Linked DNA regions of Homo sapiens: region 2 is linked to region 1. Evidence: fine-mapped expression QTL. A gene starts in region 1. The other region holds a variant in brackets. All regions are shown on one strand. Distances are from middle to middle.

Evidence for each region. PIP is the estimated chance that this variant, and not a neighbour inherited with it, causes the effect.
Region 2: its variant is the best candidate, but not a certain one, in a credible set for the expression of GCFC2 in whole blood (TOPMed, PIP 0.54).

The regions. Positions count from the first base shown.
Region 1 is chr2:75,701,111-75,717,509 of GRCh38, reverse strand. GCFC2 (GC-rich sequence DNA-binding factor 2) reads left to right here and starts at 6,595. Exons shown (of 17, transcript NM_003203.5): 1 at 6,595-6,919; 2 at 10,859-10,987; 3 at 15,087-15,311; 4 at 16,223-16,320. The coding sequence starts at 6,655. LOC105374813 (a long non-coding RNA gene) reads right to left here and starts at 6,571. Exons shown (of 3, transcript XR_940260.2): 1 at 6,476-6,571. RefSeq lists an enhancer at 5,214-5,785 and a silencer at 6,764-7,063.
Region 2 is chr2:75,820,953-75,837,351 of GRCh38, reverse strand. No RefSeq gene overlaps it. Among named protein-coding and RNA genes, the nearest start is that of GCFC2, 120 kb to the right of the region's middle. The variant G/A (reference allele first, on the strand shown) is at 8,057.

The DNA of each region.
Region 1 (16,399 bases):
CGGGTGGATCACAAGGTCAGGAGATCGAGATCATCCTGGCTAACAAGGTGAAACCCCGTCTCTACTAAAAATACAAAAAATTAGCCGGGCGCAGTGGCGGGCGCCTGTGGTCCCAGCTACTCGGGAGGCTGAGGCAGGAGAATGGCGTGAACCTGGGAGGCGGAGCTTGCAGTGAGCCGAGATTGCGCCAGTGCAGTCCGGCCTGGGCAACAGAGCGAGACTCCGTCTCAAAACAAAAACAAAAACAAAATCGCCCAGCCTAGGTCCTAAAACTCTGTAAATACCCTGCCTTATTCTTTCATTTTCAGATACTTATAAGATTCTGTCAAGGTGGTGTTCTCTCTTACTGTAGTTAATCTTATAAACTTGACTTTGGTTGATCAATAGGTTTTTCTGATGGTCCTTGGGGTATCTGACAGTTAATCAATAGATTAGTTCAGGCACATAAGAGTGACAGCTCAAAGACCTCTATTCATTATGAAAATTAGGACCTAAAATTGAGAAAATTCTCAATACTTGGGATTACAGGATATCATAAAGTATTTCCAATAAACCAGATCCTAGGGCTAATGTGGGTTCCTCACACCTGACCTTTGGAACAGGACCCCATGTGTTTCATGACCTTCTGGTCCCAGCGCAGGGCCCCTATCATAGTAAGTGCTTAAAAAAATAGATGCTGAAAAAATGAAAGCACAGTTAGTTTCATATTTGTATGAATGTGTTTCCATAGTAATTTTTTAATTAAAAAAATGACTTATAAACATGACTTCATAAAATTTTGTCCTCTTAGAAAGTTTTAAAGAGCCTGGCTTAAAAGGAAAATATATTCATTACTCAGCTCTATAGGAGGCAATTTCCATGAGATTATTTGATACAATCCGTTTATAAGAAGCGCATTTCTCACTAGAGGGAGCTCAGAATCCACCATTAAATGGCAAGACACGCTGGATAAAATGTCACTTCACTTTAGGGAGAAAAGTCTGTTTGGGTAAATATGACATTGATTTCCAGAAGTTGGGAATTTTTAATATGCCAATTTTTCCCATTGTTAACCTCTGCAATTCTAAATGACATAAAAGGGAAATAATACAAACTCTCATAATGATCAGCCAATTACTTAATAAGCTAATATTGTAAATAAACACAGTAGGGCAAATAAAAAGATATGGCATTATCTCTACCTGCTTGATGAAGGATGGTGGTAAAAATCCTAGTATTCATGAAAATGAGAAATTACATAAGGCAGTGGTAAATATGAGTATCGGGAAAAGCTGTTTGGAGAAATATAGTTTTGCTCTTTGCCCTTTTCCTGTGCCCATAGGTAACTCCGTGGAGCATCTTCTACTTTAAAGTTGCACCTTCTTGGGTACATTTGGGTACATTTGGGGAAAGGGGCTATCTCACAGCCACTCCTAAGCCAGCGTGTTCAGTAGCCTGCTTCTCTCCTATCATCCACTCCATCTCCTTTGACACCCTCAGCTCAGAATCGTGGAGCCACCAGCTTTTCCTCATCCACCACCTGACCTCAGCTGCCAACTCTTTCAATCTCAACAGCAATGTTAAGATTGGATTTGGAGGCTGGGCACGGTGGCTCATGCCTGTAACCCCAGCACTTTTGGAGGCTGAGGCAGGCGGATCACCTGAGGTCAGCAGTTTGAGACCATCCTGGCCAACATGGCAAAACCCTGTCTCTACTTAAAATACAAAAATTAGCAGGGCGTGATGGCGGACATCTGTAATCCCAGCTACTCAGGAGGCTGAAGCAGGAGAATCGCTTGAACACAGGAGGCGGAGGTAGCAGTGAGCTGAGATCGCGCTACTGCACTCCAGCCTGGGCAACAAAGCGAGACTCCGTCTGAAAAAAAAAAAAAAAAAAAAAAAAAAGATTGTATTTGGAGCAAAGTTTTACTAAATCCTTGGAAGAAAACTGCACTGTATCTAAAAAGCACTTCATCCGATTCTCCCATGTAACTGGGAACTTCTCACTGACCCTCATTTCTCTCAGATTCCAGACTACAACCATCCCCCACCCTCCACCTCAGATTCTGAAGTTTTTCTCTACCCTTTGAAATTCTTCACACTTCTCTTTACCCTAGAGTTCCAAAATCTACCATGCATGTATGTCCCAAATATTATATAGGACCTATTTATACTAAAAAGCTACTCCTGTTTTATCTGAATTTCAAGTTTTACCAGGTATTCTATATTTTTTCTAAATCTGGCAACTATCCCTCAGAGTCATCGCTCTGCTTTCCCTGGGGACAGAGGAGAAAACTCAGGATTCCTCCCCCTTTATTAAATAAGTTATCTTTATTTCATCCTCTCCCACCAAGGCAACACCCAGAGAAAATAATTTTTCTCACTTCTTTCCCTTAGAACAAATGTTTGATTTCTGTTTTAAATAGCAGAGTTTTTTCTATCTCCATCATATATCACCTATCTCTTAACATGTTTGCATTTAACAAGTTAGAGTGACTTGTTTTCCAGTTTTATTTTCGTGAGTGAACACAGATGTTTCAGAATTGCCTCATCCAACCATTTAGTTCATTGTGTTCATGTCAGTTGTGCACTAAACACTAAACTAGGTATAGGATATCAAAATGAGTAAAAGAAGGGCTCTGTCTGGGGAGGCAGTGTCTTTTAAAATGGGAAAGTAAACAATGAGTCCACATTAGCAGATGGCTCTGAACTCAGCCGAGAACAGTAAACTCTGCCTAGCGTTTTCACATTTTGGTTTAACATCGTTTGTGAGTTAGTGACTTTTGAAGGGAAAGAACAGCCTTCTAGAACACCAACATCACACTTAGATTGTCCTTAAATAAACTGCTGCCTTTTAAGCAACACTGGGAGTGAATTCTGTCCTGCTGACCCCCTTTCCAATTGCAACAAACACCTAAAATGACTTTGGAAGCTGGCAGAGAACCCTTTTTGAGGAGGTGCAGACAGATATCCCCTTATGGTGAACAACTTCTACACTTAAATAACCTTACTCACTTTGAATAGATTCTTATTAGTTTTCCTTTTGGGGGGCTATTTAGGTTTCTAAATTTTGAGGTACCTAACATTTACATGCTGTTACAATCTGATATGAAGTTCATCAATGATTAAGTTATTTAGACTATTTTTTAAGACTTCTTTTTTTTTTTTGGAGATGGAGTCTCACTCTGTCACCAGGCTGGAGTACAGTGGTGCGGTCTCGGCTCACTGCAACCTCCGCCTCCTGGGTTCAAGTGATTCTTCTGCTTCAGCCTCCCAAGTAGCTGGGATTACAGGCATGCACCACCACGCCCGGCTAATTTTTGTATTTTTAGTAGAGATGGGGTTTCACCATGTTGGTCATGCTGGTCTTGAACTCCTGACCTCGTGATCTGCCCACCTCGGCCTCCCAAAGTGCTGGGATTACTGGCGTGAGCCACTGCGCCCAGCCTTCTTAAGGGTGATTAATACTTAGTATCTGCTCTAGGACCTTGCTATTTAGAGTGATCCTCAGACAAGTATCCTCGCCTTCACCTGGGAGCTTGCTAGAAATGAAGACTCTTGGTTCCTACACATAGCAGCTCAATCAGTATCTATATGTCCACACTATTTCCATGTGCTTTGAAGAACATTAGATTTGATAAGCATTAGTCTAGGGCTTAGCATGGTGCCTGTGCTAGTAGGTGTATAATAAACACTGATTGAATTGTACGATATATTAATATGTTTCCTTAAGAGTGCATAACAGAACACTGAATTTCTCTCCAATTACAATCACGATCATCTTCCTCATTCTCCTCACTGTTTCAAAATGCTAGTCTTAGCTGGGCATTGGGGTATGCGCGTGTAGTCCCAGATCCTCAGGAGGCTAAGGTGGGAGGATCACTAAGCCCAGTAGGTCAAGGCTGAAGTGAGCTGTATTTGCACCATCGCACTGGGTGGCAGAGCGAGACTCTGTCCATAAAATTAACTAAACTAAAAATTATAGTCTCCTGTTTGGTTTAGCATTAACTACTTTATAGTGTAATTTGGAAAGATGTCCTCCTCTGCTAAGGGAGTACAGAGCAGTATCCATGGCAGAACTTGGGAATTCTGCATGGAAAGATGGCATCTGAAAAGCACTGGACCGAACGGAACCCACTTCTCCATCTCCAATCTTTAAAGTTTATTCTAACTACAAGGAGCACTTGGTCCATGATAGGAAGCTGTTCTTTCAGATGCCACAAGTATCTCTATTCTCCAGAAATATCTTTTTCACACCATTTGCCAATTTTCCAAAAGAAACACACAAAAAAACAAGTAGTTCTCTAATTTTACCTGGATTTAAAAAGAGAAGCCTCTCTTTATAATAAGACATTAATAACTTGTGAATAACTGATAATACTGTATCATATAATTTCCCAAATTTACATCAAGGAGTTTCAGTTTATTGAGAAAAGCCAAGAAAAAAAGACAAAGCCAAGAAAAAAAAATTCCGGGGCTAGGTCAATCAGAGAAACTTTGCCTCTTCTCGATTCCTTTGGTGACATATAGTCAGTGATACAATGGTAAATGTTTAATGACTGGATATCTGGGAGAAACACCTGGACTTCTAAGGTCTTCCAATTTATATGGTATAAGTAGTCCCTTTATGGCTGATTTCAAGGTGCCAATATTGTGTCCGGAATTGGTGGGTTCTTGGTCTCACTGATTTCAAGAATGAAGCTGCGGACCCTCGCGGTGAGCGTTACAGCTCTTAAGGTGGCGCGTCTGGGGTCTGCCCCTTCTGATGTTCAGATGTGTTTGGAGTTTCTTCCTTCTGGTGGGTTTGTGGTCTCGCTGGGCTCAGGAATGAAGCTGCAGATCTTCACGGTGAGTGTTACAGCTCATAAAAGCCACGTGGACCCAAAGAGTCAGCAGTAGCAAGATTTATTGCAAAGAGCGAAAGAACAAAGCTTCCACACTGTGGAAGGGGACCGGAGCGGGTTGCCACTGCTGGCTGGGGCAGCCTGCTTTTATTCTCTTATCTGGCCCCACCCACATCCTGCTGATTGGTAGAGCCCAGCGGCCTGTTTTGACAGGGCCGTGATTGGTGCGTTTACAATCCCTGAGCTAGATACAAAAGTTCTCCACATCCCCATCAGATTAGTTAGATACAGAGTTTCCACACACAGGTTCTCCAAGGCCTCACCAGAGCAGCTAGATAGAATGTCTATTGGTGCACTCACAAACCTTGAGCTAAACACAGGGTGCTGATTGGTGGGTTTACAAACCTTGAGCTAGATACAGAGTGCCGATTGGTGTTTTTACAATCCCTGAGCTAGACATAAAGGTTCTCCAAGGCCCCACCAGAGCAGCTAGATACAGAGTGTCGATTGGTGCACTCATAAACCTTGAGCTAAACACAGGGTGCTGATTGGTGTGTTTACAAACCTTGAGCCAGATACAGAGTGCTGATTGGTGTATTTACAATCCCTGAGCTAGACATAAAGACTCTCTATGTCCCCACCAGACTCAGGAGCCCAACTGGCTTCACCTAGTGGATCCCGCACCGGGGCTGCAGGTGGAGCTGCCTGCCAGTCCGGCGCCGTGCGCTCGTACTCCTCAGCCCTTGGGTGGTCGATGGGACTGGGCGCCGTGGAGCAGGGGGTGGTGCTCGTCGGGGATGCTCGGGCAGCACAGGAGCCCATGGAGTGGATGGGAGGCTCAGGCATGGCGGGCTGCAGGTCCCGAGCCCTGCACCGCGGGAAGGCAGCTAAGGCCCGGCGAGAAATCGAGCACAGCGCCGGTGGGCCGGCACTGCTAGGGGACCCAGTACACCCTCTGTAGCCGCTGGCCCGGGTGCCAAGTCCCTCACTGCCCGGGGCTGGCAGGGCCGGCCGGCTGCTCCGAGTGCAGGCCCGCCAAGCCCATGCCCACCCGGAACTCCAGCTGGCCCGCTGTCACCTCTCAATATGACGCCACTAAACATGGAGTTGATAACAGGTGTGCAGTAGCTCAACATTATATAGTATTTCTACCATACAGATACAGTAGTAGACAGAGCTTGATGAATATAGAACAAATTTGCGTCAGACAATAGCTTTTTGTTTTTAGATAGTTTCTTTAAGGGTGAAAACATTTAACCAGGCTCTCTTGAAGCCCTGCTGCCTGGGGGAAGTCATTTGATTTTTGCTAGTCTGTATGCATTGTTTATGTACAGACTTTATGGTTTTGTTCTCAAAGGCATCTCCTCCTACCCCGAGCCTCACACTGCTGGGGTTTCGTTTGTTTTAAATCTTGGTTGGAGGGGGCACTCTCTCCAGAAAGTAAAAGACAACGGATCTGGCTCCAGTCCAGGACGGAAAGCATAACGCTTGATTTCTGGATGGGGTTTGCACAAGGACAGCACGTGAGTTCTGCTCTCCGTGGGACTCAGACCGGATAGGCCGTGAAAATCTCTAAGGTGTCAGTCCACGCAACCTAACCTGGCAAAGGGAATGCTTTGCAAACTCAGGCCCCAGAACAGAACTCGGCCTACCAGATCCAGGGAGCCAAAGCACGCAGGCGCAGACAGAGTAGCGGTGAGCAGAAGGCAGGCGGGACGGGCGCGCGCACTCGGCGGCCAGGCGCGGCGGGAGCGCGCCCTAGGGGGCGGGCACTGAAGCTGCGGCTTGCGGTTCAGCGGGTTCTAGGGCGCCGGGCGCTCGGGCCTCGGCCATGGCTCACAGGCCGAAAAGGACTTTTCGGCAGCGCGCGGCTGATTCCAGCGACAGCGATGGCGCCGAGGAGTCGCCTGCTGAGCCTGGGGCGCCGAGGGAACTTCCGGTCCCGGGTTCTGCGGAGGAAGAGCCGCCCTCTGGAGGAGGCCGCGCGCAGGTGGCGGGACTGCCCCACCGGGTTCGGGGCCCTCGTGGCCGGGGCCGGGTCTGGGCGAGCTCCCGGCGTGCCACCAAAGCGGCTCCCCGCGCGGACGAAGGCTCAGGTGTCCAGGGAGACGCGGGGAAGCGGGGAGGTGACGGCACAGGGCGGGAAGGGGCCGCGGGGTCTCTGGATCCTTCTCTGGGGGTTCTATAACTTGCTGCCGACCACAAGCCATGCTGAGTCTTATCCAGAAAGACTTATCCAGAAGGTAGTGAGCGAGAAAATAGCTCGAGCACTTGCCCGCTATCTGCATCTGCCTTTTGGACTCCTTGGGGGAAATAAAACAATCGTGTACAGTTGGGAGGCTCTTCGTTTTCACCATCAGTTGACTCCATCAGTTATAACTAACACAGTTATCAAAGTTTATGAAGAACCTAAACTGTCACAACAAAGTTCAATAATTTATAATACTATTAAGTGGGCAGAAGTTATATGTACCTTTTAGACACTTGACCAACTTATCTTTCTTGAAAACATTTAGCCAGAGTAGTACAGGAATCTAGGTTTTGGGACATTCCCCTTTGTTTATTTTCTTTTTTCACCAGTTATTTGCAAAAACTAATAGTAATATATACAACACAAAGAAGCATGATAGAGATTCATGACACTGTAGATGGTACCAGTAATGGTGTTAGATATAGTGTCGTCATTTTGAAGTACCTTTGAGTTCTTAAATACAGGTGTAAGGCAGCATAAAGTTGTTTAAATAAAATGTGCTGCTCTGAGTTGGAATTGTAGCTTAATGAGGAATACGGTTTTTGGTTAGTCTTGAGAGCTAAAATCTTCCTATTATTTTTTATTGTCATTAAAGTGATTTTTATTAATTTATTGAGAAGTAAAAAATGTATATACTTATAGTGTACAACATGATGTTTGAAATGTGTCTACAGTGACTAAATGGAGCTAATTAACATTTGCTTTACCTTAGGTACTTACTTTTTTTTGTGGTGAGAACACTTACTATCTACTCTTACTAATTTTCAAGTATGCAATGCATTGTTATTAATTTTAGTCACCGTGTTGTAGAATAGAATTCCTCTTGTCTAATTAAAATGTGTGCCCTTTGACCAGTATCTTCCCAACTACCCTCAACCTCACTCAGTCCCTTCTAACCACTACTCGACTCTCTGCTTCTGTGATTTCTGATTTCCACTTTTTTAGATTACATATGTGAGATCATGTGGTGTTTGTCTCTCTGTGCCTGTCTTATTTCATGTAACATAATGTCCTCCAGGTTTATGATCTTCGTGATTTCTTGGTCTTTCTTGTGACCTTCTATTTGTCTAAAGTTTTCATGACCTTTTATATTTGTTTTCTGGTTAAACTTTGTAGATGAAAGTTGAAGTCAGGAGTTCCTTTTCTCTTGCCTTCTAGAATAGTGGTTCTCAAACTCTTTGGGAATTGGACCTCTTTTAGACTCTTAGAAATGATTAAGGATTCCAAAGAGCTTTTGTTTCAGTAGGTTATACCTATCAATATTTATCACACTAAAAATAAAATTTATTAATTCACTTACAAAAAATCTATTACATGTAAGGATAAGTAAGATTTTTGTGAAAAGTATTACCCCAAAAAAGGAAGAGTAGCATTGTTTTCAATTTACAGATCTCTTTAATGTCTGGCAAAATATTAATAGAAGACAGATGAATTGTCATAGGTGTTTCTGCTTTTAATCTCTTGTGCTATTTTGTTTTGGTTGAAGTATTTGAAGAAAATACAGCCTCTGACAGATACATGATTAAGACGAGTACTTAATAGCATTTTTAGATCATTGAGGGTGTTGTGCTTTAATATAACACAGCTCAACAAGTAATAAACTAACCCTTCTTAAAAGTTAGTTGCGGGCCGGGCACAGTGGCTCACACCTGTAATCCCAGCACTTTAGGAGGCCGAGGCAGGTGTATCAAGAGATCAGGAGTTCGAGCCCAGCCTGGCCAACATGGTGAAACCCCATCTCTACTAAAAATACAAAAATTAGCCAGGCATGGTGGTGGGTGCCTGTAATCCCAGCTACTCAGGAGGCTGAGGCAGAGAATCACTTGAACCCGGGAGGCAGAGGTTGCAGTGAGCTGAGATTGTGCCACTACACTCTAGCCTGGGTGACAGAGTGAGACTTTATCTCAAAAAAAAAAAAAAAAAAAAAAAAAAAAGTTGCCAAATGGATTCTTAAACCATATGATTAAATTTGGGGTGCTCTTACCTTAAAACTCTGTTCTGTTTTGTACTTTGGATCTTTTACTCATGAACGATTGGTAACATCTTGCATTATTTGGAAGGTATTCATTAGCTGAGTTTGCAGATCTTGCAAATGTTGGAGCATTTTATTGTACAATACCAAAAAAATCATAGTATTACCACTGATTAATCAGTCTGTAAGTACTGGAAAGCTGTTAGGTTCACAGTAGAGAATATAAGTTTTCCAAAATCTCAATTTTCACTTGAAATCTCTCATTTTATTGATAGGCACAACCGGGCTCATGTTTTGAGAAAATGTTTGTCAGATAGCCATGTCTGAATAATCGGTTTGTTAGTCATTCTTTCAAGTAAAATGGTGATGCTTCTTAAAAACAACGTCTAGTTCAGCTTGCAACTCAGTCACACAAATGCTTTTCCTTAAGGCAGCCATTGCATTTCAAGATGCAGCAAAAGTGCCTTATGAATACTTTGATTTTGTCACAAAGAATATTAAACATGTGTACTCAAGGGTCAAAATTTAATAAAATAACAATTTTTTAATTAGTTCATGAAGAGCAACTGGCTTTTTTCTGCCATGTGAGGTAAGGAAAAATACCATAACTGCTACTACAAATTGATTCATTCATGCCAAGAGCCTAGCAGTTTTACCCATCACTGCCTTTACTTCATTATATAAATATCAACATGGTAAAAAGAACAAATAACATGTTATTATTGTGATGAAAGTAGTTTTAATTTCACAGACTCTCTGAAAGAGTCTCAAGGACCTCCAGGGATTGATAAACCATGCTTTAAGACCCACTGCTTTGGTGTTAATCCACTTTGGAAACAGGTATGGGTTGTCATAAATGACAATATCTAAGAAAGATGTGAGCTGCAGCTATATTTTTTTTAGTGTTTTAAATTTTGATTTTACTCCAGCCTTTTTTGAACTGTATGTAGGTCTTCTAACTAAGGTAGAAAATTAAAATTAATGAGTAGTATGTAATCTTATGTTTTAAGGTTACTCATAAAGATTGCAAATTTATTGTGGATTAAGAAATCCTTTCTTGTCAATAATGTCAAGAATTCCTTTATTTTGTTCATTCAATTTTCACAACACCCCTGTGGGTTTTATCTTGGTGTTATCTTTGTTTAACAGATTAATTGAATTTAACAGACTATTTACCTTCCCAAATCATGCATTGAAAAGATGGACCCATGGTTTAATATTGACCAAAGTGCTCGTTACAATATTTCTCGCCACCAGCCGTTGAAATATGGCATACTATAAAGAGAGCCTAAGTTCTGAAGTTGCCTGGGATTAGGTTGACAGCCCTGCTTCTCCACTGCCCGAGTTGGTGTTCTTTATCCTCTCAATCCTTAGTGAACTCATCAGAAATTGCATTTACTTTATAGAATTACAGGTATTAAATAAGTCATGTAAAACAGGTTTCAGTGTGCCTAGTACATAGTATACATTAAATATTTTTCTTTTCTACTTATTCACAATCATTACTATTCTAAATATTACTTCATTTTTTGTCGCTTTTTTTTTCTCTAATGCCTCCTTCCCTTTTCTCATTGCATACTTTTGGAAATATATTATTAGATGCCTAGATAATACAAATAGGGTCTTTGTACACTTAGTAGATCATTCAGTTGCTTAAGAAAGAAAGTTGGAGGAAGATCAATATGTCTACTTTAATATATGGACTAGGATTAAAACACCGTATTATACATATGCCATGTGTTGTTCAGAATTTCAATTAATAATTCCATTATTTTGACTCTTTTTTGTTGTATTTTTAAAATGTCCTGTTAGAATCCAGAACCCTTGATGTGTCCACAGATGAAGAGGATAAAATACATCACTCCTCAGAAAGTAAGGATGATCAGGGTTTGTCTTCTGACAGTTCTAGCTCTCTTGGAGAAAAAGAACTTTCATCAACAGGTTAGTAATTTGTATGATTTTGGTTAAGAATTTTATTTTTAATATAGTGTTTTTGATATAGTTATTAATGACATAACAAACTCTAGTGACATGGGGCAAGTAGGTCATTAATGATGATTGTCAGAGTGCCAAAATTGCTCATTTTTATTACATTTTAACATGCACAGGTCAGACAGCTTATAAGTAGCAGGGCTAGGATTCAAACCCAGTTTGTTCTGGAGCCTGTATTCTTCTTAATCACTGTGCTATACTGGGTGATTGACATTGATACTTGAAGGATGGTAAGAATTTGTCAGGGAGGATGTTTCAGGTATAGGATGTAGCATATCTGAAACTCTAGGGAAGGTATGTAATATGTGCAGGAAGCTAAAAATAGCTCTGGCTGAAAGTATTTGGTTGCGAGTTTAAGGAAAAGAAAACAGGAAGGACAAGTTGGAGTCAGATTATACAGGGCTTAGGGAACCACTGAAAATTTTATACAGATGACATGAATGTTTTTGTGTCTTAGAAAGATCAGTCTAGTTCAGGGGTTGGCAAATCTGGCCCACCACCTGTTTTTGTAAACAAAGTTTTATTAAAACACAATCACAGTCTTTCAGTTACTTAATATTTGTGGGTGCTTTTGCACTGCAGCAGCAGAGTTGAGAAGTTGCCACAAAGACCCTATGGCCCGCAAAGTGAAAAATATTTATCTGGCGTCTTACAGAGGTTTATAACTTGTTTTGTGCCGTGGACTCCTTTTTCAGTCTAGTGAAGCCTAAGATCCCTTCTGAGAAAATAAAGTAAAATACATAGCTTTGTAGAGGAAACAAATTATATTGAAATAAAATTATTAAAATATATTTTATGACGCTTGTAATATAGTAATAAGTGCTTCTGTGCTTCTTTTTTTTTTTTTTTTTTTTTGAGATGGAGTCTCACTCTGTCGCCCAGGCTGGAGTGCAGTGGCGCAATCTGGGTTCACTGCAAGCTCCGCCTCCCAGGTTCACGTCATTCTCCTGCCTTAGCCTCTTGAGTAGCTAGGACTATAGGCCACCACGCCTGGCTAATTTTTTGTATTTTTAGTAGAGATGGGGTTTCACCGTGTTAGCCAAGATGGTCTCGATCTCCTGACCTCTTGATCTGCCCACCTCGGACTCTCAAAGTGCTGGGATTACAGACGTGAGCCACCACGCCCGGCCATAAGTGCTTCTTTATTAGCCTATTAAATAACAACAACCAGTAGCTCTGTAACCTTGTAATTTTGTTTCTTCTCCATGTCCACAAGGTACAGAAATACTAAGCGATTAAGCCAATATTAAGAACTGAAATCTAGTAAACAGTTGAAGCCTTGTCTGGATTCTAGATACAGTGCTATTCAGTAAAATTTTCTGTGGTTTGGAAAAATTTTCTATCTTCACTGTCCATATGGTAGCCACTAGTCACAAGTGGCTGTTGAGCTCTTGAAATGTGGCTATAGCGAGACTGAGAAATTGAATTTTTAGTTATATTTGAATACTCACATAGGGCTAGTGGCTACTGTACCAAACAATGCTACTATAAAAGATGGCGGATTAGACTAGGTGCCATGGCTCATGTCTGCAGTTTGGGAGGCCGAGGTGGATGGATCACCTGAGGTCAGGAGTTTGAGACCAACCTGGCCAAAATGGTGAAACCCTGGCTTTACTAAAAATGTAAAAATTAGCCAGGCATGGTGGCATGCACCTGTAATTCAGGGGACTGAGGCAAAAGAATTGCTTGAACCTGGGAGGCAGAGGTTGCAGTGAGCAGAGATCATGCCAGTGCACTCCAGCCTGGGCAACAGAGCAAGACTCCATCTCAAAACCAAACAAACAAAAAAAGATGGTGGATTAAACAGGATAAGGCAGTGGTTGTAAAGTGTTGGCAGCACTGCCCCCACCTTAGGAGAGAGGGCAGCGTTTGAAAATGTGTGGGATTATTTAAATGATTATAGTAGTTGAGTTGTTGCTGGCACATAGTGCCCTAGAGGCAAGGGATGATAAATGTCTTAACAGGAGTGCAGAACAGTTCAGCGCAGTGAATTGCCCATCCCCTATGCACATTGAGAAACGCTGATTAAAAATTGAAAACTTGTCCTGTGAGGAACACCTGAAAGTTCGAAGGACTTATTGGCTGGCGAAGAAAAGATGGAGGAATGTGTTAATTTTAAGGGCTGGCATGTGGAAGAAGAGCATTTATTTGTGTTCCGATGAATAACTGCCTCAAAATAGTCCCTCTAGCAGAGATTACTTGTTACTAATAGAAGATGATAATTTACCTCTCAGCCCTAGATGATTGCATATCAGATAGGATGATATATGTGAAGAATTATTCATAAGTTATAAATTTGTAAAAACATGATGTATTTATTATTGAACAATATGCTGACATTATTGATTCCTCCTATGTCTGCCCAGCATCTGCTGTGTGAGAACCCTTGAACGAGGTATTGAATATGCAGAAACAGGACAAACGCAATACTCTTCTCTTCCTTGGTTTTTTACTTCTTTATTTTTACTTGAGCAGTTACCTTTATGTAGCACTAATATCTTACTAGTGTGTCCCATTGCTTGTGACTTACTAATTAAACCCTACCGAGTCACCTGCAAGAAAATCACTTCCAAAATAAGTATTTCTGTGTCCACATTCATACACTTGAGTATTTGAACCTAAATGTCTTATCTTAATCCTGCCTGCACATTAAAATCCTCTAGGGAGCTATAAAAACATACTTCTGCTCAGCTCTGCCTCAGATCAACATCTGAATCACTGGTATAGAGGCCTGGGTATGTCAAGCTTCTCAGGTGACTCTGATGTGTAGCCAGGGTCGAGAATTGCTACTATAACCTGCTGTGATGGTTTTGAATCTTAAATGCTTTGGGAGGAGGAAGAGACACCTGACCTTCATCATGTCCCTGACAGTAGTCTATAAATAATTACTAATCTATAAAAAAGCAAATCACTTCATTTTCTATTACTTGTTCTTGATGAATATTTATTGACTTCTAGTGATTTCTTTATTGCTTCATGATTCACTCAAGGACTTTTAATTTTCCCTAGGGCTGATGTCAAGCATATTGGTCTGTGATTTCTAAAATCTTTCTCTTTTTTTGTTTGTTTCAAACATGGGAGCTTTTGTGCATCTCCAAGTACATGGCATTTTTCTGTTTATTTCTCAAAGAATTTGGGTCAACTTGTGGGAAAGTTTAGAAAATTTCACTTCAGCCTCAGTAGCTTGACATCTTTTTAGTAGTTTGAAGTGCTTAAAATGGTGAAAATTTCTCTCGCTGTTTCTTTAATGTAGTATTTTTCTTAAGAAACCGTTTTTTCCAGAATGAAGATAAATTTCAGCTTAGATCATGCATGAAGAAACTCGTTTTAAATTGGAAGAGTTTATGCTAATGATATTTATGCTGTACAAAATAAAGAAAAAAAATAAGACTCTCTTAAGAGTTGTTGTCATTTAAAATTTTTCACCTGGTAAATGAGCCTGATTATTTTCTTTACACTTCTTAATGTCTCATGTTTATTCACGTGGGGCTCACTACAGAACCGCAGAGGCTAATTTGGCTTTGCTCTGTTACTGTTTGTAGTATGTTTGTGATTTCTTGTAAGTGTGGGTAGGAGGGAAGGAGGAAGGAGGACATCATAGTGTAGTATCTCTCTTACTTGGTAAGTCAGGCTGGTCTGTCATTGATCCTTCTAACTTCTGTAGCTCTCACTGATTGGGGAACACCACACTCAGCCCTCTCCACATCCCTGCGCTGACAATCTCAGAGCTTCCAGAAATGAGAAATAGCGACCCCTCAACAAAGTGAGCAGTACCTGATGAGTAAGAGAGTTAAAAGATAAAATGAAGCAGTTTCAGTATATTTTCTGATACTTCTAGATTTGTTTGATTTTTCTAAGTTGTATTTAATCTCTATTAAGTTTTCTTCCTTTGCTGATACAGATTTTGAGCCATTTATTAAAGTCACATTCATATATCAAAATAGCAAATAATTTAGGAAAATGGTGCTTTTTTCTTTTTCTTAAATGTGAGGAATATTTACTTACATTGGTCTTTGGTTTTTAGTGTCCTCGTCTTTGTTTCCTTCAGTTAAGATCCCAGATGCAGCTTTTATTCAGGCAGCCCGCAGAAAACGTGAATTGGCCAGGGCCCAAGATGACTATATTTCTTTGGATGTACAACATACCTCCTCCATCTCTGGTATGAAGAGAGAGAGCGAAGATGACCCTGAGAGTGAGCCTGATGACCATGAAAAGAGAATACCATTTACTCTAAGACCTCAAACACTTAGACAAAGGATGGCTGAGGAATCAAGTATGGATTTACCAATATATGAAGATTAGGATATTTTTTATTAGAATATAATATGAGAGAATCTCCATAAAAAATGTAATATGCTGGCTCACATTTTATAGTGTTGATAATGGTTTTTAACATCGATTTGGTCCATGATATTGTGACCTCTAAAAGATGTATCTGTATCAAAATGTTATTATCAAGGAGTATGTGTAATAATGTTTATTAATGCCTGACCTCCCACCTTGATGTTTTTGGACAGGTTAAAAAAAATGTGCAGTATCTTACTTTCAAAGCATTGAAAACGATCGTTTTTACCTGTATAAATATATTTTTTTTAACATGGAAGCATCTATAGAGATTTTAGATGTCATGTATTAAAATCTTCCCTGCTGTAATAAAAAATTTCCTCTACCAATAATACTAAGCCTTAAAGGACTGTTTTCATATTTCTCATTTATGATATATGCATTTGACCAAGGTTTTGGTAACTTTAAATAATATTTTTTTCAGAAAAGGACTTAGTTCCTTACAATTTATTTTTAAGTGTTTGGATTCTCAGGTAGTAATTGAGAGATCTTTGATAAGAAAAACCAAACATTTCATTCTTTCTCAGTTTTTTACAATATAGGGCTATAGTGTTTTGAGTGGGACAGTTTAGTGATAGGAGTGCAGGTTATGGAGTCAGATCCCAGGATCCAGCTTCCAGCTTCAACATAGTCCTAAGACAGTTACTTAACCTCCCAATATTTGCATTTCCTCATTTGTGAAATGAGGGCAGTAATAGTGCCTTCTTCCCAGAATTATTATGAAGAATAAATAACACGTCAAGTGGTGCTAAGCCTTTGTATAATCTCAAAAAATGTTGGCTTGCTGCAATTAAAATGGAAAAATACTAAACGTTTACATGTGAGCTTTTTTTCCGCTAGTAAGCAGAAATGAAGAAACAAGTGAAGAAAGTCAGGAAGATGAAAAGCAAGATACTTGGGAACAACAGCAAATGAGGAAAGCAGTTAAAATCATAGAGGTAATCATTTTTTATCCCATGTGTATTAGATTCCTGTGGCTGCTATAACAAATTACCACAAACTTGGTGACTCAAAAGA
Region 2 (16,399 bases), 120 kb before region 1:
TTGCATAGAGGTGTTTATAGTGTTCTCTGATGGTAGTTTGTATTTCTGTGGTATCAGTGGTGGTATCCCCTTTATCATTTTTTATTTTGTCTATTTGATTCATCTCTCTTTCCTTCTTTCTTGGTCTGGCTAGTGGTCTATTTTGTTGATCTTTTCAAAAAACCAGCTCCTGGATTCATTGATTTTTTTGAAGGGTCTTTTCGTGTGTCTATCTCCCTTCATTCTGCTCTCATCTTAGTTTTTTCTTGTCTTCTGTTAGCTTTTGAGTTTGTTTGCTCTTGTTTCTCCTTTTAATTGTGATGTTAGGTTGTTGATTTTAGGTCTTTCTTGATTTCTCCTGTGGGCATTTAGTGCTATAAATTTCCCTCTAAACACTGCTCTGGCTGTGTCCCAGAGATTCTGGTACGTTGTGTCTTTGTTCTCATTGGTTTCAAAGAACTTATTTATTTCTGCCTTCATTTTGTTATTTACCCAGTAGTCATTCAGGAGCAGCTTATTCAGTTTCCATGTAGTTGTGTGGTTTTGAGTGAGTTTCTTAATCCTGGGTTCTAATTTGATTGCGTTGTTGTCTGAGACTGTTTATTATGATTTCCATTCTTTTGCATTTGCTGAGGAGTGTTTTACTTCCAATTATGTGGTTAATTTTAGAATAAGTATGATGTGATGCTGAGAAGAATGTATATTCTGTCGATTTCGGGTGGAAAGTTCTATAGATGTCTATTAGGTCCACTTGGTCCAGAGCTGAGTTCAAGTCCTAGATAGCCTTGTTAATTTTCTGTCTCATTGATCTGTCTAATATTGACAGTGGGGTGTTAAAGTCTCCCACTATTATTGTGTGGGAGTCTAAGTCTCTTTGTAGGTCTCCAAGAACTTGCTTTATGAATCTGGGGTCTCCTGTATGGGGTGCATATATATTTCAGATAGTTAGCTCTTCTTGTTGCATTGATCCCTTTACCATTATGTAATGCCCTTCTTTGTCTTTTTTGATCTTTGTTGGTTTAAAGTCTGTTTTATCAGAGACTAGGATTGCAACCCCCACTTTGTTTTGCTCTCCATTTGCTTGGTAAATATTCCTGCATCCCTTTATTTTGAGTCTATGTGTGTTTTTGCATGTGAGATGGGTCTCCTGAATACAGCACACTGATGGGTCTTGACTCTTTATCCAATTTGCCAGTCTGTGTCTTTTGACTGGGACATTTAGCCCATTTACATTTAAGGTTAATATAGTTATGCATGAATCTGATCTTGTCATTATGATGCTAGCTGATTATTTTGCTCGTTAGTTGATGCAGTTTCTTCATAGTGTCTATGGTCTTTACAGTTCGATATGTTTTTGCAGTGGCTGGTACCAGTTTTTCCTTTTGATGTTTAGTGCTTCCTTCAGGAGCTCTTCTAAGGCAGGCCTGGTGGTGACAAAATCTCTCAGCATTTGTTTTTCTGTAAAGGATTTTATTTCTCCTTTGCTTATGAAGCTTAGTTTGGCTGGATATGAAATTCTGGGTTGAAAATTCTTTTCTTTAAGAATGTTGAATATTGGCCCCCACTCTCTTCTGGCTTGTAGGGTTTCTGCTGAGAGATCCACTGTTAATTTGATCTAGGTTACCCCTTGTGGGTAACCCAGCATTTCTCTCTGGCTGCCCTTAACATTTTTTCCTTCATTTCAACCTTGGTGAATCTGATGATTATGTATCTTGGGGTTGCTCTTCTCCAGGAGTATCTTTGTGGTGTTCTCTGTATTTCCTGAATTTGAATATTGGCCTGTCTTGCTAGGTTGGGGAAATTCTCCTGGATAATATCCTGAAGTGTGTTTTCCAATTTGGTTTCAATCTCCCCATCACTTTCAGGTACACCAAACAGACATAGGTTTGGTCTTTTCACATGGTACCGTATTTTTTGGAGGCTTTGTTCATTTCTTTTCATTTTGTTTTCTCTAATCTTGTCTTCACGCTTTATTTCATTAAGTTGATCTTCAATCTCTGATATCCTTTCTTCCACTTGATCAAGTTGGCTATTGATACTTGTATATGCTTTACAAAGTTCTTGTGCTGTGTTTTTCAGCTCCACTGGATCATGTATATTCTTCTCTAAACTGGTTATTCTAGTTAGCAATTCGTCTAACCTTTTTTCAAGGTTTTTAGCTTTCTTGCATTGGGTTAGAACATGCTCCTTTAGCTCAGAGAAGTTTGTTATTATCCAACTTCTGTCAATTCATCAAACTCATTTTAAATCCAGTTTTGTTCCCTTGCTAGTGAAGAGTTGTGTTCCTTTGGATGAGAGGAAGTTTTCTGGTTTTTGGCATTTTCAGCCTTTTTGTATTGGTTCTTCCTCATCTTTGTGGATTTATCTACCTTTGGCCTTTATGTTCGTGAGCTTCAGATGGAGTTTCTGTGTGGATGTCCTTTTGGTTGATGTTGATGCTATTCTTTTCTGTTAGTTTTCCTTGTAACAGTCAGGCCCCTCTGCTACAGGTCTGCTGGAGTTTGCGGGGGGTCCACTCCAGATGCTGTTTGCTTGTATCACCAGCAGAGGCTGCAGAACAGCAAAGATTGCTGCCTATTCCTTCCTCTGGAAGCTTCAACCAAGAGGGGCACCTGCCAGATGCCACCTAGAGCTCTCCTGTATGAGATGTCTGTTGACTCCTGCTGGGAGGTGTCTCCCAGTCAGGAGGCACAGGGGTCAGGGACCGACTCAAGGAGGCATTCTGTCCCTTAGCAGAGCTTGAGCACTGTGCTGGGAGATCCATTGCTTTCTTCAGAGCCGGCAGGCAGGAACGTTTAAGTCTGCTGAAGCTGCGCCCATAGCCACCCCTTCCCCCAGGTGCTCTGTCCCAGGGAGATGGGAGTGTTATCTATAAGCCCCTGATTGGAGCTGCTGTCTTTCTTTCAGAGATGCCTTGCCCAAGAGGAGGAATCTAGAGAGGTATTTCAGCTACAGTGGCTTTCCCAAGCTGCGGTGAGCTCCAACCAGTTTGAACTTCCTGGCAGCTTTGTTCACACTGTGAGGGGAAAACCGCCTACTCAAGCCTCAGTAATGGTGGACGCCCCTCCCCTCAACAAGCCGGAGTGTCCCACGTTGACTTCAGACTGCTGTGCTGGCAGTGAGAATTTCAAGCCAGTGGATCTTAGCTTGCTGGGCTCTGTGGGGCTGGGAGCCACTGAGCTAGACCACTTGGCTTCCTGGCTTCAGCCTCCTTTCCAGGGGAGTGAACAGTTCTGTCTTGCTGGCATTCCAGGCGCCACTGGGGTATGAAAAAGAACTCCTGCAGCTAGCTTGGTGTCTGCCCAAGCGGCCACCCAGTTTTGTGCTTGAAACCCAGGGCCCTGGCGGTCTAGGCATCAGAGGGAATCTCCTGGTCTGCGTGTTGCAAAGACCGTGGGAAAAGCATAGTATCTGGGCTGGAGTGCACCGTTCCTCACCAAATGATCATTTTCACAATAACAACAAAATATAAAATGCATGGAATCATGGATGTTGTAAGCTGGCTCATTCTGCACCTCTTTCTACCCTCTTCTAATTTTCTTTCTTCTACTAGATAGGCCAATAGCCTTAAACTACATGTTCCAGCCTCTGTTGAAGGTAAAATTTGATATATTGCCTGGTTTCCACCAAGCAGAAGCATCAGCATGAAACTTAGGAAAAAAAATAAGTAGCTACAGGCAGGAAAGCCAGATCTTCTGGCAAGTTTCATGGCTGAGGAGTTTTATTCCTCCAGGGCATGTGTAGCAGGGTTTCAGGCATCCAGAATGTGTCAGAGGTGCTGAGCAGTAACACATCAGCAGCTAGTTTTGCTAGAATAGTCTCATATTGTGGTTAGGCAGTTTCCCCCGGCTGCTTTGTTTTTGGCTTTCTGGCATCTAAGCCTGGTTCTCCAACTTTCCCAAGGTTTCTGTGAGATACTCAGCTTTTTGGCGGGGGGCAGGGGTGTCTTCTTTCTGCTGGCACTAGCTAGAGGATTATTTGTCTGTAAGTAAGAGCCCTGACCAATACACTCAGGAATACACTTACCAATAAACATGTTGGATCCATATATAAAACTTTACTGAGGTTTACAACAGTGGAGAATTTAATAAATGAAAACTGCATTACATTTCTATTTCTGCCTAGCAAATTACCACTAACTTAATAACTTAAAACAACATCCATTTACTAACTCACAGTTCTGTGAGTCAGAAGTCCAGGCATGACACGACTGGGTTCGTGTCATTAGCTCAGGATCTCACAAGACCAAAATCAAAATCAAGGTGTTACAAGGATGTGCTCTCCTCTGGATCTCAAATCTGGTTCTCTTCCAAGATGATTTAGATTGATGGCAGAATTCAGTTCCTTGCTGACTGTCAGTTAGGGATTGCTCTCAGCTCCAACCAGCGACTCCCTGGTTTTTACTTGCATAGACCCTTCCCATCTTCAAAGTTATTAACGGAGAATCTCACTTGCATGAAATTCCCGTTACACTTTAAATCTCTTTTGCAATGAGGTCCAAGGCCCTTTTAAGGGCTCTCTTGGTTAGGTACAGCCCACTTGGAAAGTCTCACTTTTGACTAACTCAAAAATCAACTAATTAGTGACCTAATCATGGGAGTGATATCCCATAGTAGTCACAGTTCTTGCCCACACTCAATGCACTACCTATCACAGAAGCCATATCATGGGAGCCTTAATAATCCTAAATTATTTCATAAGGGTAATACAAATCCTACCAGAATGTTTATGTAGAACTTTAAAACATATTAATTTTCAAATTTAAAAAGTCACCAGGCAGAAGCAAGTGATCAATTTTGAAAAATAAAAAAAAAAGTAATGGATTTTGCAAAATCAGATTCAGATTATATTTATATGTTTTATTTAAATTTTCAATTGCAAAGACATTATAATTGAGAGTTTTGCACTAAATTAAGAATAGAAAGAACAGATCATTGGAACAGGAATAGAACAATAGAAAGAATAGAAAGAGCAGAAACAGACTCAAATATTTATAGATGATTACATATAATGAAGGATTTATGTCTAATTAGCAAGAGAAGAATAGATTATTCAATAAATGTTGTTGGTAAATCTGCTCAAATATTTGTGTAAAAATAATTATATGCATACTTTATACTATACACTAAAATAAATTCCAGCTGGATTATAAATATAATTCAAAAAATACAACTAAAAAAAAAGAAGGAACATAGATGAGTATCTCATTTGTCAGTAAAAGAGAGAAAAAATATAGAAAAGTAAATATTTCACCACAAATAAGACCTTTTTTGGCCCCCAAATCATCACTTAAAAAGCAAATGACAAAAGGAGAAAAAAGTCTCAAGTCTGATGCCTTACTAGTTCTTTAAAAGCAATACGAGAAAAGCAAAACACCACAATGGAAAATATAAACAATGGACAAAAATAGGCAACTTATTTTAGAAAAAACTTAAATTGCCAACAAGCTTTTTAAAAATGCTCAGTGTATTAGTCTGTTTTCAAGCTGTTGATAAAGATATACCCAAGTCTGGGCCGTTTACAAAAGAAAGAGGTTTAGTGGACTCACAGTTCCACATCAATGGGAAAGCCTCACAATCATGCTGGAAGGCAAAAGGCTCATTTCACATGGTAGCAGACAAGAGAAGAGTGATAGCCAAGTGAAAGGGTTTTCCCCTTATAAAACCATCAGATCTCATGAGACTTAGGCACTACCACGAGAACAGTATGGGAGAAAACGCGTCATGATTCAATTACCTCTCACTGGGTCCCTCCCACAACATGAGGGAATTATGGGAGCTATAATTCATTCAAGATGAGATTTGTGTGGGGACACAGCCAATATATATATATATATTTTTTTGCCTTGCAAAATGCAGTGTTTTTGATATATATTACCTCATGTTGGTAAGGAGGTCCAGAAACTAACCCTTTTGTTGACAGCCCATGAACACACAAGCTGGTGATATTTTGTGAAAAGCAATTTGGTATCACCAAAGGCTTTAAAATGTGTGTACTCTATGTCTTAGAAATTCTGCTTATAATCATTTGTATTTTATGTTTGTTTATTTAGCAAACATTTATATAATGTGTACTATATGAATGTCCTAGGCTGCATTCTAAGAACTTAGCAAATATTTACTTATTCAATCCTCACAACATCCTGATGAGGTAGGTACTATTAGTGTCATTATCCCCATTTTACAAATAAGGTAATTAAGGCAGAGACAAAGTTAAGATACTCACCCAAGGTTGTTGCACAGCCACTAAGGGATAGAGCCCAGGCAGCCTGCTCCACAGCCCATGCTCCTAAACTCTGTGCTATTCAGCCTCTCATGTAATTTATGGAGTTAATAATGAATGTTCCCAAAAGCTGTTCCACAAGAATTATCCCATCAGCACTCAAACTATCTTGATAAAGCCCTCTTCCCAATATCTTCCTTCAGCTACTACCAAATTTCTCTGCTCCCTCAAAGGACAACTTCTTGAAAAAGTTGTCTGCACACATTGTCTTCTCTTCTTACCTCCCACTTCAGCCAACTCTAATCTCACTTTCACACCCACTACGTTACTGACAAGGTCTTCAAAGTCACCAGTGACCTCCTGTTGCAAAACCCACTAGGCACTTTAAGGTCTACCGTTTTTTGACATCTCAGCAACATTCTACAAAGTTGGCCCCTCCAACTTTCTTGCTATATTTTCCTTTCTGGCTTCCATGACAGCATATCCTCCTCATTTCCTTCCTACTATTCTGGAAACTTCCTCATCATGTTTCCTGGGAACTCCTCCTTTAACCCACCTTTCTCCCTGCACTCTCTCCCTTGACAGTTTGAACCAGTCTCTTGTTTTAAATGTCATTTATGTGGTAACAACTTCCAAATTTATTCTTCCATCACAACCTCACCTCTGAGCTCCAGATTCATTTGTTCAACTACGTGTTTGGCATCTCCACCTGGCTATGTCATAAGCCTATCAAAGCTAACTTGTCAAAAACCAAATTCCTGAATTTACTCCCCAACCAAACCCTGCCACTCATTCCCCCTTTAAATATCTTGTCTCCACTACTGAATGCACTACAATAAATGGCACCAATACCTATCCAATTGTTCAAGGCAGAAGACTTGGAGTTAGTTCAATCCTCTACTCATACCCTCCATTCAGCCACAATATTCTGATCAGTAATCTCCAAATCTTTATGAATCATTCATTCATTTTGCTTCATCTTCCCTGCCACCCCTCTCGCCTAAACCACCGTCATATCTCTACTGGACTACTGAAATAACTTCTTATTTTCTTTGCTGCCACACTTAGCACCAACGATATAGTCTCTCCATAACAACTGAAGTGATATTTTAAAAACAAGTCAGGTAATGTCACTCCCTTGCCTAAAACATCAGTGTCTTCCTCTTGCACAAACAAATCCAATGCAAACTTCTTAATATTGCCTACTATGCCCTGCAGGATCTAACTCTTGCCTACCTCAACAATTTTGTCTCTCATCTCGGTGCCCACTCCCACTCTCTCATAACCCTCCTCAGACATGACAAACTGTCTTTCATTTTGTGTTGGCTGTTCCCTTCACAGGCTCCTGCCCCAGCTCTTTATCTGATTGGCTCCTTCTCACTCTTAACTTCTTAACTTGTATGTCACCTCTCAGAACAACCTTCCCAGAGCCCCCCAATTTAATAACTCAATAATTTTCTTCCAAGTTATTGTCTTCATGGCATTTCCTCAATTTCTAATTACCTGTTACAATAAACAGACTGACCTCTTTTTTTTGTTTTTTGTTTGTTTGTTTGTTTTTTGTTGTTGTTTTTTTTTTTAAGACGGAGTCTCGCTCTGTCACCCAGCCTGGAGTGCAGCAGCGCGATCTCGGCTCACTGCAAGCTCATCCTCCTGGGTTCACGCCATTCTCCTGCCTCAGCCTCCTGAGTAGCTGGGACTACAAGCGCTCGCCACCACACCTGGCTAATTTTTTTTGTATTTTTAGTAGAGACGGGGTTTCACCATGTTAGCCAGGATGGTCTCGATTTCCTGACCTCATGATCCGCCCGCCTTGGCCTCCCAAAGTGCCGGGATTGCAGGCTTGAGCCACCGC[G/A]CCCGGCCTGCTGACACCTTTTTTGATGTAAAACTGTTGACAGCTTTTGAATCCCTGTTCCACTTTCCTGTCTGCCCAATCCTTGCTGCTAGCAGCAGTCCAAACCTCACAAGGCCCCACCCTACGGCCACTATAATGGCCCAGTCCACTTTTTCCACTTCGCTTAAGCCATCTGGATTAATTTACACCTGCCCTGCTCTCTCGGGAGAGCCTCATGATGTGAGTAATAAACCTATTCATACCTTCTTGGTGCATGCAGCATCATCAGTCTCACCATCATGACTAATTTAGGTAGGGGTTAATCCTGTTCTCCTTGGGGCAACCACAAAATACCTAAGCCTGTTGATTTACTTGTTTATAATTTGTATCTCCCACTACACTAACTTGCCTAAGGTTAGGAACCAAGTCTGTTTGTATTCAGCCATGTATGAGGCTTGACATATACTAAACGCTCATTAAATATTTGGAAATTGATCAAATGAGGTGCATTAAACCACTGCTAATAATGATAAAAAATAAAAAAACTGGAGAAAGAGATAACTTATTAACAATAGGAGATTGATTAAATAAATTACTTAGATAAACTGAATGAGTATAAATTATATTGAAAAGAATACTTAACGGCTTTGAAAAAAATTTTGCCGTGCATTAGTGAAAAGAGCAGTTTACAGAAATAATAATAATAGGGTAATCTTATTTTTCCAAAATGTGTGTGTATATTAATGGACAGTGAAATTATTGAAAGAATATACTCTAAAATACCAATAGGATTGTCTGTAGGCAGGTGATTTTATTTCATTTTTTAACTTTCATTTTAGGTTCAGGGGCATATGCACAGTTTTGTTATATAGGTAAATTGCTTGTAATGGGGGTTTGGTGTACAGATAAGTTTGTTACCCAGGGAATAAGCATAGTACCTGATAGGTATTTTTTCTGCTTCTCTGCTTCCTTTCACCCTCCACCCTCAAGTAGACCCCAGTATCTGTTGTTCCCCTCCTAGTATCCGTGTGCTCTTGCTGTTTAGCTCCCACTTATAAGTGAGAACATGCAGTATTTGGTTTTCTGTTCTTGTCTTAGCTTAGGATAATGGTATCTAGCTCTATCCATGTTGCTGCAAAGGACATGATCTCATTCTTTTTATGACTGATAGTACTCCATGGTGTACATGTACCACATTTTCTTTATCCAGTCTAACATTGATGGGCATTTAGGTTTATTCCATGTCTTTCTGCTTGTGAATAGTGCTGCAGTGAACATATGCATGCATGTGTCTTTATGGCAGAATGATTCATATGGTCCATTGGGTATATACCCTATAATGGGATTGCTGGGTCAAATGGTAATTCTGTTTTAAGTTCTTTGAGGAATCACCACACTGCTTTCCACAGTGGCTGAACTAATTTATATTTCCATCAGCAGTGTATAACTGTTCCTTTTTCTCTGCAATCTCTCCAGCATCTGATTTTTTGGTTTTGCTTTGTTTTGTTTTGTTTTTTAAGAGCCCTGGTGTGAGATTATATCCCATTGTGATTTTAATTTGCATTTCTCTAATGATCAGTGATGTTGAGGGGTTTTTTCACATAATTGCGGCCGCATGTATGTCTTCTTTTGCAAATTGTCTGTTCCTTTCCTTTGTTCATTTTTTAGTGTGTTTTTCCTTTCTTGTAAATCTGTTGAAGTTCCTTATAGATGCTGCACATTAGACCTTTGTCAGATGCATAGTTTGCATGTATTTTCTCCTATTCTGTAGATTGTTTACTCTATTGATAGTTTCTTTTGCTGTGCAGAAGCTCTTTAGTTTAATTAGGTCCCACTTGTGAATTTTTGCTTTTGTTGCAACTGCCTTTGGTGTCTTTATCATGAAATCTTTGCCAAGTCCTATGTCCAGAAGGATGTTTCCTGGGTTATCTTCCAGGATTTTTATAGTTTTAGAGCTTACATTTTTATAGTTTTAGAGCTTACATTTATATAGTTTTAGAGCTTACATTTATATAGTTTTAGAGCTTACATTTAAGTATTTGATCTATCTTGAGTTGATTTTTGTATGTTGTGTTAGGTAGGGGTCCAGTTTCAGTCTTCTGCCTACGGCTAGCCAGTTATCCCAGCACCATTTATTGAATAAAGAGTCCTGTCTCCATTGCTTGTGTTTGTCAACTTTGTCAAATATGAGATGGTTGTAGGTGTGCAGCCTTCCTTCTGGGCTCTCTATTCTGTCCCACTGGTCTATGTTTCTGTTATTGTACCAGTACCATGCTGTTTTTGTTTACTATAACCCTGTAGTATAGTTTGAATTAGGATAATGTGATGCCTCCAACTTTGTTCTTTTCGCTCAGGAGTGCCTTGGCTATTTGGGATCTTTCTAGTTTCGTATGAATTTTTAAATTTTTTATCTAATTATGTAAGGAATATCATTGGCAGTTTGATAGAAATAGCATTGAATCTATAAATTGCTTTGGGCAGTATAGTCATTTTAATGATATTCATTCTTCCCATCCATAAGCATAAAATGTTTTCTATTTGTTTGTGTCATCGCTGATGTCTCTGAGTAGTATTTCGTAATTCTCATTGTAGAGGTCTTTCAAATCCTTAATGGGCTATATATCTAGGTATTTTATTCTTTTTTTGCCAACTGTGAATGAAATTGCATTCCTGATTTGGCTCTCGGCTTGGATGTTGTTGGTATATAGAAATGCTACTGATTTTTGTACATTGATTTTGTATCCCGAAACTTTGCTAAAGTTGTTATCAGATCAGGAGCTTTCGGCCAAGGACTACCGGGTTTTCTAGAAATAGAATCATGTCCTCAGAAAACAGGGATAATTTGACTTCCTCTCTTCTTATTTGGATGTCTTTTATTTCTTTCTCTTGTCTGATTGCTCTTGCCAGAACTTCCAATACTATGTTAACTATGAATGGTGAGAGCAGGCATCCCTGTCTTGTGCTGGTTTTCAAGGGAAATGCTTCCAGCTTTTGCCCATTCAATCTGATGTTAGCTGTGGTTTTGTCATAAATGGCTCATTATTTTGATATTTATTCCTTCAGTGCCTAGTTTACTAAGGGTTTTTAACATACAGGGATATTGAATTTTATCAAAAGCCTTTTCTACGTCTACTGAGATAATAAAGTGGCTTTTATTTTTAGTACTGTTCATGTGATGAATCACGTTTACTGGTTTGTGTATGTTAAACCAACCTTGCATTGCAAGGATAAAGCCTACTGGATCATGATGGATTAGCTTTTTGATGTCCTGCTGAATTCAGTTTGCTAGTATTTTCTTGAGGATATTTGCATCTATGTTTGTCAAGGGTATTGGCCTGAAGTTTTGGTTTGTTGTGTTGTTTCTGCCAGGTTTTGGAATCAGGATGATGTTGGCCTCACAGAATGAGTTGGGAAGGAGTCGTCTTTATACATCTGGTAAATTTCAACTGTGAATCCATCCAGTCCTAGGCTTTTGGGGGGTTGTGGGCTTTTTATTACTTTTGTATCTTATTATTGGTCTGTTCAGGGATTCAATTTCTTCCTGGTTCAGTCTTGGGAGGTTGTATGCATCCAGGAATTTATTCATTTCTTCTAGAACTTCTAGTTTGTGAGCATAGAGGTGTTCATAATAGTCTCTGAGGTTTTTTGTATTTCTGCAGTGTCAGTGGTGATGTCCCCTTTGTCATTTCCAGATGTGTTTATTTGGATTCTCTTTTTTCTGTATTAGCCTAGCTAGTGATCTATCTATCTTATTGATTCTTTAAAATAACTAACTCTTGGATTCATTGAGCTTTTGCATGGTTTTTTGTGACTCAATTTCCTTCAGTTAAGCTCTGATTTTGGTTATTTATTCTCTTTTGCTAGCTTTGGGGTTTCTTTGCTTTTGCTTCTCTAGTTCTTCTAGTTGTGATATTAGGTTGTTCATTTGAGATCTTCCTAACTTTTTGATGTGGGCCATAAGCTTGCCTCTTAACACTCCCTTAGTTATTTCTCAGAGATTCTGGTATGTTGTATCTTTATTTTCATTAGTTTCAAAGTATTTCTTGATTTCTGTCTTAATTTCATTGTTTACCCAAAAGTCATTCAGGAGGAGGTTGTTTAATTTTCATGTAATTGTATGATTTTGAGTGATTTTCTTAGTCTTGATTTCTATTTTTATTGTGCTATGGTCCAAGAGTGTGGTTGATATAATTTCAGTTTTCTTGAATTTGCTGAATGTTGTTTCATATCTGATTGGGTGTTTCATACTCTGATTGGAGTAGGGTCTATGTGGCAATAAGACAAATGTATATTCTGTTGTTTTGGGGTGGAGAGGGTCCATTTGGCTAAGTGTTGAGTTCAGGTACTGAATATCTTTGTTAATTTTCTGACTCCATGATCTGTGTAATACTGTCAATAGAATGTTGAATGTTCCCACTATTTTTATGTGGGAGACTAAGTCTTTGTAGATCTCTAAAAGCATACTTTTTGAATCTGAGTGCTGCTGTGTTGGCCGCATATATATTTAGGATAGTTAAGTCTTCTTATTGAATTGAACCCTTTACCATTATATAATGCTCTTCCTTATCTTCTTTGATCTTTGTCAACTTAAAGTCCATTTTGCCTGAAATTAGGATTGCAGCCTCTGCATTTTTCTGTTTTCCATTTGCTTGGTAGATTTTTCTCCATGTCTTTATTCTGAGCCTATGGATGTCATGGCACATGAGATGGGTCTCTTGAAGACAGCATACCATTAGGTCTTGCTTCTTTATCCAACTTGCCCCTCTGTGCCTTTTACTTGGGGTGTTCAAGCCCATTTACATTCAAGGTTAGTATTGATGTGAGCAAATTTGATTCTATCATCATGTAGTTAGCTGGTTACTATGCTGACTTGTTCTTGTGGTTGCTTTATAGTATCACTGATCTATATACTTAGGTGTGTTACTATAGTGGCTGGTAATGATCTTTCCTTTCCTTACGTAGTGCTCCTTTCAGGACCTCTTGTAAGGCAGGTCTGGTGGTAATGAATTCCCTCAGCATTTGCTTGTCTGAAAAGGATCTTATTTCTCCTTCACCTATGAAACTTAGTCTGGCTGGATGTGAAACTCTTGGTTGAAATTTTTTTTAAAAAATGCTGAATATAGGTTCCCAATCTATTCTGGCTTGTAGGTTTTCTGCTGAAAGGCCCACTGTTAGCCTGACAGGGCTCCCTTTGTAGGTGATCTGCCCCTCTTCTCTAGCAGCCTTTAACATTTTCTTTCATTTCAACCTTGGAGAATCTGATTATGTTTCTTGGAAATGGTCTTCTTGTGAAATATCTTGCAGGGATTCTCTGCATTTCCTAGATTTGACTGTTGACCTCTCTGGCTAGCTTGGGGAAATTTTCATGGATGATATCTTGAAATACGTTTTCCAGATTGCTTGTTTTCTCTCTGTCCCTTTCAGGGATACCAGTGAGTCAAAGATTTAGTCTCTTTACATAATCCCATATTTCATGGAGGTTTTGTTCATTCTTTTTATATACTTTTTTCTTTATTTTTTGTCTGACTGAGTTATTTCAGAGATCCAGTCTTTAAGCTCTGAGATTCTTTCCTCAGCTTGGTCTATTCTGCTGTTAACACTTGGGATTGCATTACGCAATTCTTTTTGTATGTTTTTAGCTCTATCAAATCAGTTTTTTATATATATTTTACATATATATTATATAGATATATTTTATATATCTATATAATATATATATTTTATATATCTATATAATATATATATTTTATATATCTATATAATATATATATTTTATATATCTATATAATATATATATTTTATATATCTATATAATATATATATTTTATATATCTATATAATATATATTTTATATATCTATATAATATATATATTTTATATACATATATATTTTTATATACATATATAATATATATTTTATATACATGTATATAATATATATTTTTATATACATATATAAATATATATTTAATATACATGTATATAAAATAAATATTTTATATACATATATAAAATAAATATTTTATATACGTATATAAAATAAATATATATTTTATATACGTATATAAAATATTTATTTTATATATGTAAATATACATTTTTATATACGTATATAAAATATATATATTTATATACATATATATATAATATATATATATATAATGGTTATTTTGTTCTATCAGCTCCTGTGTTATTTTATTGTGATTCTAAGCTTCCTTGGATTGGGTTTCAACATTCTCCTGAATCTTGATGATTTTCATTGCTATCCATATTCTGAATACTAGTTCTGTCATTTCAGCCATCTCAACCTGGTTAAGAACCCTTTCTTGGTAACAAGTGCAGTCATTTGGAGGGAAGAAGGCACTCTGGCTTTTTGCATTGCCAGAGTTCTTATGCTGATTCATTCCCATTTGTGTGGGCTCATCTTCCTTCAAAGCTTGAAGTTGCTGTCCTTTAGATGCAATTTTTCTTTTTTGCTTTTTTTTCTTTGGTGCCCTTGGGGGTTTGGTTATGGTATAAGGTCAATTCAATTAACTGGCTTTGATTCTAGTCCACTCCTGGGTCTTGGAGGAGCCCCCTCTGATTACTTCTCTGTCCCCATGGGTATTTTGTTGGGTATTCTGGTTCATGCAGCTCCCTCAAGCAGGGGCCACAGTTGGCAGACAAATCACATCCTTGTCAGGTCGTGTGCTTCCTGGGGAAACACAGGGTTGTGCCTGCCTCAGAGTTTATGCAGAAACTCAACCACTGGGTTGGAAACTTTAGCGGCTGTGATTCATCTGGCTTTGGAAGGTGGAGGTGGGTGGAGTTGCCTGCTCTGCCCTCCAGGTCTTTCCAGAGCAACAGGAGGCTGTGCCTTTTAGCAAATTCTGGCAGAAGTAGTGCTGCTGAGCCAGAAGCTCTAACAGGTGTGGCTCATCTAGCTACCAGTGGTGGGAGTGGGTAGAGATGCCCACCCTGCCATCAAGTGCTTCCTTGGATGACAGGAGGCTGTGCCCACTGGCGGAGTTTCCATAGAACCAGGACCCCTGGGCTAGAAACTCTAGCACGCATTGCTCTCCTGGCTGCAAGTGGTGGGGGTGTGGGGGTGTCACATACCCTGCCATCTGGGTGTTTCCTGGGAAAACATGAAGCTACACCTTCCAGCTGAGTTCCCACAGAAGCAGGGCCACTGGGCCAGAAGCTCTAGCAGTTGTTTCCTACCTGGCTATCAGTGACAGCAGTGGGTGGGATCTCTGTCTGTGCACTTCTTGGGAAAACATGAGGCTGTGCCCACTGGCTGAATTCACACAGAAGCAGAGCCACTGAGCCAGCAGCTCTAGGAGGTGTTGCCCTTCTGGCTATCAGTGGTGGGGGTGGATAGGGTCATGCACCCTGCTGTTCACCTGTTTCTAAGATATCATGAGGCTACGCCTTTCTGCTGAGGTCGCACAAAAGAAGGGCTACTGGGTTGGAGGCTCCAGTAAGTGTTGCCCACCTGGTTACCAGTGGCAGGGGTGAGTGGAGTGGCCAGCCAAGTTTGGGCCAAAGCAGGACCATTGCATCACGAGCTGGTGCCAAGCCCCATCTGGCAAGAATGAGTAGAGCAATCTTATTGCTTCTAGGAACAGCAACTATGGCCTCTACTAGGGCTATGGTGCCACTGTTGATCTGTTTCAGGGCCCAAGGCTTATAGAGGTCCCCTTGGACTCCAGAGTTGCCCTCGCAGAACATCTAGGTGGCTCTCTGCCACTAGAAGCATAGTGGGAAGATGTTGGGGGGCCAGGAGTATGATCCCATTCCCAGTTTTGCACAGGTCCCTTTGGAGAACATGAGTCCTTCGGGGGCTCTCACTCAACTCCCCTTTCCCATGTTGGAGAGATTCTCCTGGCTCCACAAGGGCCCAGCCTCACTCCTGTCTGCTCTTTGTGTTCCCCTGCTGCCTCGATGGATCCCAACAGGTTTTTCAGATGATCAGCCTGCAGGGTCAGTGTTCACCAGCCCTTTCGTTTCCTCTTCATGAGCTGCTTCCAGTCTGCCGTTTTGATACTTCCCCTCCAGGTGATTTTATTTTTACTCTGTGTATTTCTCTGTATTTTAATATTTTTAATGAATATGTATCATTTTACAACTGGATAAGAAGACCATCTAAAATATTTTAAGGAGACGATACATTGCAGGGGTATTAAATCTTAATTTTTCAGGCTGTTAAATTTTAATTTCCTTATGTCTTTTCAAGGACTATAGTGAAGACAAATTTTTTTTAACCATTAAAAGCTATGACAAACAACTGTATAACATTTAATTTCATCAACCCCATCAGAATAAATACCAGATTCTGAACTTATGTCTGGTAAGAAAAGGGGTTCCTCTTCTATTCTACCA